Homo sapiens: one gene and its partner. The protein of the gene in region 2 purifies or fractionates together with the protein of the main gene of each other region. This does not show direct contact. Each region holds a gene or a part of one and is shown on either strand. Other genes may lie near its edges.

What was found.
Region 1: the proteins of PLGRKT (region 2) and VPS13C purify together in Homo sapiens (affinity purification with mass spectrometry; one large-scale study listed by BioGRID and IntAct). This does not show direct contact.

What each region holds. Positions count from the first base shown.
Region 1 is NC_000015.10:61,851,560-61,854,447, forward strand, and holds the end of VPS13C (intermembrane lipid transfer protein VPS13C), read right to left. Parts: 3' UTR 830-2,888; downstream 1-829. UniProt on the Homo sapiens protein: Mediates the transfer of lipids between membranes at organelle contact sites. Necessary for proper mitochondrial function and maintenance of mitochondrial transmembrane potential.
Region 2 is NC_000009.12:5,361,258-5,365,086, forward strand, and holds part of PLGRKT (plasminogen receptor (KT)), read right to left. Parts: intron 632-3,829; coding exon 501-631; intron 1-500. UniProt on the Homo sapiens protein: Receptor for plasminogen. Regulates urokinase plasminogen activator-dependent and stimulates tissue-type plasminogen activator-dependent cell surface plasminogen activation.

The DNA of each region.
Region 1 (2,888 bases), on a different chromosome or scaffold from region 2:
TTAGTCCTGGCTGTACATTAGAAACACACACAGAACTTCGTTAAAAACAGATATCCAGGCAGCACCAGATCAACATACTTAGAAACTCAAAGCACCAAAAAGATGATAGTGTCCTCCTTCATGCATAATTCAAAATAAAAACAATACTAAATCATAAAACACATGGAAGTAAGTCCACCCTGGATGGCATTTTTCTTACGAAGCTTGGGTACAGTCTTCTTCCTTTTTTTTTTTTTTCCTTTTTTAATGCCCCTGCTTTGCTACAGCCCTCAGCATGAACTTATTCTTCCTACCAGATAATCCAGCACTGGGTGAGCCTTCCAAACTGGTAGTCTGAGCCCCATGTGGAAGAGGGAGGAGAAGAGAAAGACAGCGGTATGGTAGAACATCCCAGACTGCCATGCAGTCTAAGAAAGGTTCTGCAAGGCCACTGAAGAGTCTTCAAGCCAAAGTCGGCTGTCAGAGGAGTTCTGTGTCTCCTAGAATTTCCAGACTAAGTATGTCTTAGTATAACTTCATACTCAGCCAGTCGCTGAGAGAAACCACGGAAGGCATGGGCTCAATGCAAATACAGCAATGGATTTCAAAGTGCAGCTGGGCCCCTAGGTCAACCGCATTCTCTGTAATCCCCCAGTATTGGAGGTCTCTGCCACAGATCTCTAGTGTGATAAAGGGGCTCAGTACCCCTGAGAAAAAGCTTTTCTGACTAGTATCTTGTAAAGTCCTCCATAACTATCAATATAACTTCTCACTATTTTGGGATTGGAAGAGGAAAAGGGAAAGACAAAAAGTAAAGCAAATGTTACTTGAATAACACAAACCCACAAAGTTTTCACACCTGTAAACAATGTGCCAAATGTTTTATTTCTCTCATATGCAAGTAATTACCTCTCAAAGCATTTTTAAAAAACGCATTATTACACTTTACCAATGAATTATTTCTGTCCCTGGAGATTAAATCAAATCAAAATGTTACAAATAGTATCAGTATGATATAATTTCTTAAATATATGGGACATTGTCAACAGCTGTGATTCATATGAAAAATATAATCAGATATCTCAAATTCCTAATTCTGTTTTAAAAACACAAAACACTAGAACAGTTGCTATGAAATTACTGATAATGATCCCTTTAATAAACTGCAATTAACCACTAATATAGAAATTCAATTTAAGCAAGAAGTTTTATATATTATACTTTACAGAAAAAAATAATTTTGAAAAAGTAATGACAAACAGAGATCAAACATTTAGGGCATTAGTTACTGCATTCTCTTTTTAGAATATACATTAAGTAACACTAGTAAAATTTAAAGTTTTATGACCAGGCCTTAAAAAACATGAATGATGATGACAGAACCACTATCACACATAAACAAAAATAGAGCAAACCAAGCGTGTCCACATCTCCATGAATTCAGTGATTTGAAATAAATGTTGTTATGTTAAACATTATGAGCAAATCTAAAGGTTCAACCAAAAAACTTACATATTTTTGAGTATTTTTTAAAGTTTTAATAGTTTATCTCTGATCAAGGATGGAGAAAGGACAAAAAAAAATACTGTCCTGAATTGATTCTCACAGGGCCTGCTCCCTCACAGAACACAGTGTCATTATATATGCCTTATTTATATATAAAACAACCAAAGAATTTTCATTCTTCTTAGTAAGTATTTAAAATACATTCTAGGCGTGCATTAGGAGTAAATGTTAATTTGTGATGCCCTTAAAAGACTTTCAACCTGTAAGAAACAATTTCTGGGAATATAAAAATATTGAATTTTACATATTTCAGAGTCTTGAGAAACTTAAAGTGCAGTATTTTCATGTATCAGCAAATAATAATTGTGTCATATAAGCTCATCTTGAAAGAGGATGTAAATACTTCCAAATTTTTATGAATGCTACATTACAGAGGGCAGAGTGTAGCTATTTTAAGGTTTGATTGTCCAGATTTTTTTATTAGACTGCAAGGAGGAAAAATAAGCACCAAAGTAAAATATGCTTTATTAGGGGGAAAAACAGTGTTTTCATGAAAAGAAAATAGAAAACATGTCATTTCTCCCTTTAGTGACCTTTCTTCATTCAATTACCTGGTTTACCAAGAATGTTAACTCAGTTCAATTATTGAACAAATCACTCTTAAACAAAATGTCAGGATCCAACATTTGTTCATGGGTTAAAGCCTTTTGGCGGGCCGTGGTGGCTCATGCCTGTAATCCCAGCACTTTGGGAGGCTGAGGCATGCGGATCACAAGGTCAGGAGTTCGAGACTAGACTGACCAACATGGTGAAACTCATCTCTACTAAAAATACAAAAAAAAAAAAAATTACCCAGGCGTGGTGGCACACACCTGTAATCCCAGCTACTCAGGAGGCTGAGGCAGTAGAACAGCTTGAACCCGAGAGGCAGAGATTGCAGTGAGCCAAGATCGCACCACTGCATTCCAGCCTGGGCGACAGAGCAAGACTCGGTCTCAAAAAAAAAAAAAACCCCAAAAAAACAAAAATAAAAAAACCTTTCAAAGAACACTAGTCATTCTAAGCTCATTTCTTATTCTTCAGTAAGGCTTTAATTAAATATAAGCCTATTGACCTTTGCTTCACAATTTTAATATTAATGAAAATTTCATTCTGAGTTTGAAGTGACGTTTCTTCAAGGGTCTGACCCATTTGGGTGGTGGCGTAGAAGTGGACTGCTAGCATATACATGGTTACAAAATTAGAGTAAAAACTAAAAGGTGAAAAAACTAGAAAACCCAATACTAGCTATTCCAGAAAACTAAAACTAAAGGATTGCTTGAAAAATTGTCTTTAGCAAGATAAAGCAGAGTGACTTATAGACAAGACCAGTGATTGTTTTTTCTCCCTGTTGGAGCCCCTGA
Region 2 (3,829 bases):
AAAAAAAAATACCTGCTTTTTGGAAGAATGCCTTTTCCTTCAGAAGTTACTTAACACATTTGATAATTCTATGGAAATAGGATTTCCTTACCCAATACCCCTAACCAGATTCTGCAGTTCTCAAGGGCAAGGTCTGTGACTTGCTCATCTTTATTTGACTCTGAAGCTCAGGTTCCTTGTTTTTAAAATGAGTAAGGATTGGTATCTACCACTAAGGGATTGTGGAGATAAACACATAGAGCCCTTCTTGGTGTCAAGTTGGTGCTCTCTCTCTCTAACTAATAAAGTAGAGAAAAAGACAGAAGCAACCTAGGAAACTAAATTAACTGTTACTGCCTTGCTTTCACAGAGTTACCCCCAAGGACTAAGGTTAATAGGTTACTTTGGTTACATACACTATTTGGACCAAAGTCTTATTCTGGCCAACTTCATAATAAAATGGTAATGGAAAACACAAAAAGAAGTAAATGACTGAAGAAAATGTTAAATAGCAAACATACCCAGCTGTTAAAGAGATGGCTGCAAGGCCAAAAAAAGTTCCAAAATATTTGAGGAATTCCCGAGACCACGCAATCTGCATGGCCATTTGTCTTTCCCTCATTTCACTCTGCATGATGAGCTGCCTTTCCAGCTAAGGACAAAACAAAAGACAAAGTAAAGTTACTCATCTTTGGAATCTGAACAAATAGTTAATAATCTGTTTTTCCAGCGGATTCATTCTTCAATTGCTTTAATTCATGTTTTTTCAAAAAAATCTCAACAGACTTTGACTAAAGTTCCTTTGGACAGCTCTCACCAACTGTCACCTTGGCAGTGAAATCTTCCTGGAATAAATACAGAATAAATATCAATATTCCATTTTTACACCCTGAGGTCTTGACTGCCTGTGGTCTGGAGCTTTAGCCAAGTCTCAAATAAATGTCCAGCTTTTCCTATTGGATGTGTGGAAAGATCTATGGGTCTTTAAATGTAGATACATCTTATTGGCCTTTATTTCTACTTGCATGGAAATCTGCCTTCCAAATCCATTCCAAATTGAAATTTATTTGGAGTATTTATTTGCTCCATATCATACCACAATATCATAGTAGATGGGTGTTGTTTTGAGACATCTATAGAGATTTTTCTTTGCCACATTTTTCTCGCCTCAAGTTCTTCACCACTTTGTTCAGTGCCTTTCACTGCTTTGAACAGAAGGCAGATGGCTCAGAACAGAGAAGGAAACTGAATTTCTAAATTGATTTTTAGAAAATACTCAGGAGAAGCAACTGTCTGTAAACCCAAGCCCATTATTTGAAGAGAGTTATATTCTTGACAGAGAAAAGTGTTGTTGGCATTGTTGTTGATGTTTTAATTCTAAAATCTTGGCACTACATGTCATTAGCCAAGCTAGAGGGCAATACACAGGGAGTTCATGATGCAAGGAAGAGGAGAGGAAGGACTAATAATGTGATTTAGTTTTCCCTCCATGCCCTCTTTCTACTGAGGGGAGTAGCTGGGAGGGGCGAATGATAGTTTAGATGTAAAGATGGGGCTTGGCTCCTTGGCCTATTTGGGAGGTTAAATCACCAGAAGATATGACGGAAGCCTCAGATGGGTTTGGGAATCCCTAAACAGAGAAGACTTGTGGCCTTGCTTCCTGCGGAGAATTCTGGGAGGGAGCAGCTACAGCACAGCAGAAATGGTTTCAGGGCAGACCTTGCAGAGAGCACACCTAAGAGAGGCCGCTTCCATCTCCCTCAACAGCCAAGGGGTGTGGAGGAAGTCTGCAAGGTTCTCACATCAGCTGGAGAGGGGCACAGAAGGTAACTGCGGATTGAGAGCAGGGGGACTACCAATGAGTCCAAAACCTAGAGCCAGCGGACCCCATAACAGACACTTGGGGAGTGAACATAAGCCAGTGGCTGGGTGGGGAAGGCCACTCACTGGATCCCAGAGGATCAGCAGCACCCGAGAGTGCTTTTCTGCTTTGTTTTCTGTTCAATCAACCTGGACAGCGCCACATGATGTTCCCTAAGGGCATGTGGCCATGTTCCAGGCTGGCGTAACCATCATCGCCATACTCTCAGGTGCTACTGATCCTCTGGGATCCAGTGGCCTTCCCCACTCAGCCACTGGCTTATATTCACTCCCAAGTGTGTGTTATGGGGTCCCCTGGCCCAAGGTTTTGGACTCTGGTAGGCCACCTGCTCTCAATCTTCAGCTACCTTCTCTGGCCCTCTCCAGCTGATGTGAGAACCTTGCAGACTTTCTTCACACCCCTTGGCCGCTGAGGGAGACGGAAGTGGCCTCTCTTAGGCATGCTCTCTGTGAGGTCTGCTCTGAAACCATTTATGCTCTGCAGTACCTGCTCCCTCCCAACATTCTCCACAGGAAGCAGGGCCATAATTCTCTGTCTGGGGATCCCCAGATGCATCTGGCTAGATGTGCCTTCCCTGATGCTGGTGCCACCTGAGATCACCTGGACCCAAGCCTAGGTCATACCAGGGAAAAGATGAACGGAGAAGGGGAGGAGGAAAGCTGAATTCAACTATTTTCTCCCAAAGAACCGAGTTTTAAACTAGAAGTAATTGAGTAACTTTGACTTGTCAAAATTAAATTTGCTGTCACCAAGAGAAACTGAGGTTCATTTTGAGTTCAATTAGAGTTTAAAAATAGATGTGTTTTTGCACAAGATTAGTGTGTGAAATTCATCCTTGCCACATTACTTATTTACAAAACTTACATACTGATTCATCATATCCCCCAAAGTGATGTAAATACAGCAATTAATTATTTGTGTTTTTATCAAAAGGCAGCAAACAAGAAATAGAGGAGTCCAGACTGGTTCTAAACCTTTGCTGCACATCATGAGCATCTGGGGAGATTTTCAAAGGTCTAGTAACCAGATATACCTCCCAGACCAACTAAACCAAGTGGGATCAATTAAGTCAGGATCTGGAGGTAAAATCAGGCATCCATAATTTCTAAAGGCTTCCAGATAGTTCCCGTGTGCAGCCGGGACTGAGAACCGTCACCTGAAATGAAAGACTCATAGCTCATATTTTTTTTCCCACAAAAGATCAACCTGAGATATCAACCTGAAAGAGATTACCTGGGAACTCTCAAAAGATTGTGAGCAGAGGGGCTTTCAGGGTGATGGAGTTAATCTGTATGGTACTATCGTGGTGGATACATGACATTCTGCATTTGTCAAAACTCATAAAACTTTACAGCACAGAGTGAACCTTAGTGCATACAAATTTTACAAATCAGCCAAAAGGGCAAGGGATGCACAAGATGGAATGGGGACTGTGACAAAATAATCTGACTGTGCTACAAATGTGTGGCACAACCTCAATGAAGGGTTGGGGGAAAAGAACTGATCTATCTTTGGAAAATGGTATTTTGACTAAAAACTGTAAAACTAAAGACAAAGGACTATACATAAACACTGTACTCTAGTGAGTAAAACTGTCTCTCACGAGTTACAGATTAACAATTCTGAAACTGCTTTACATGTCTACTGGAGATGAGCAACAAGTAAATTGACAGAAGATGGTGGAAGCCAGGTTTCTTATTATTAAACAGGGAGATTACAAACAAGCAAGAGGAAAAGACTAGAATGAACCATGTGGTACTGGATTAGAGCCAATGACATCCGTATGAACTCATGCTTAGTGCTTGATACAGACATAGACAAGGATGAAATTATAGATATGCATATCTATATGCATGCATAGATTAGGCATTCATGGCTTAGTGTAAGTACATACATTTTCTCAGCTCTGTCCACTGACAGGGCATAGAGGCAATAACAACCCCTTGCAAACAAGCATACCTAACACCC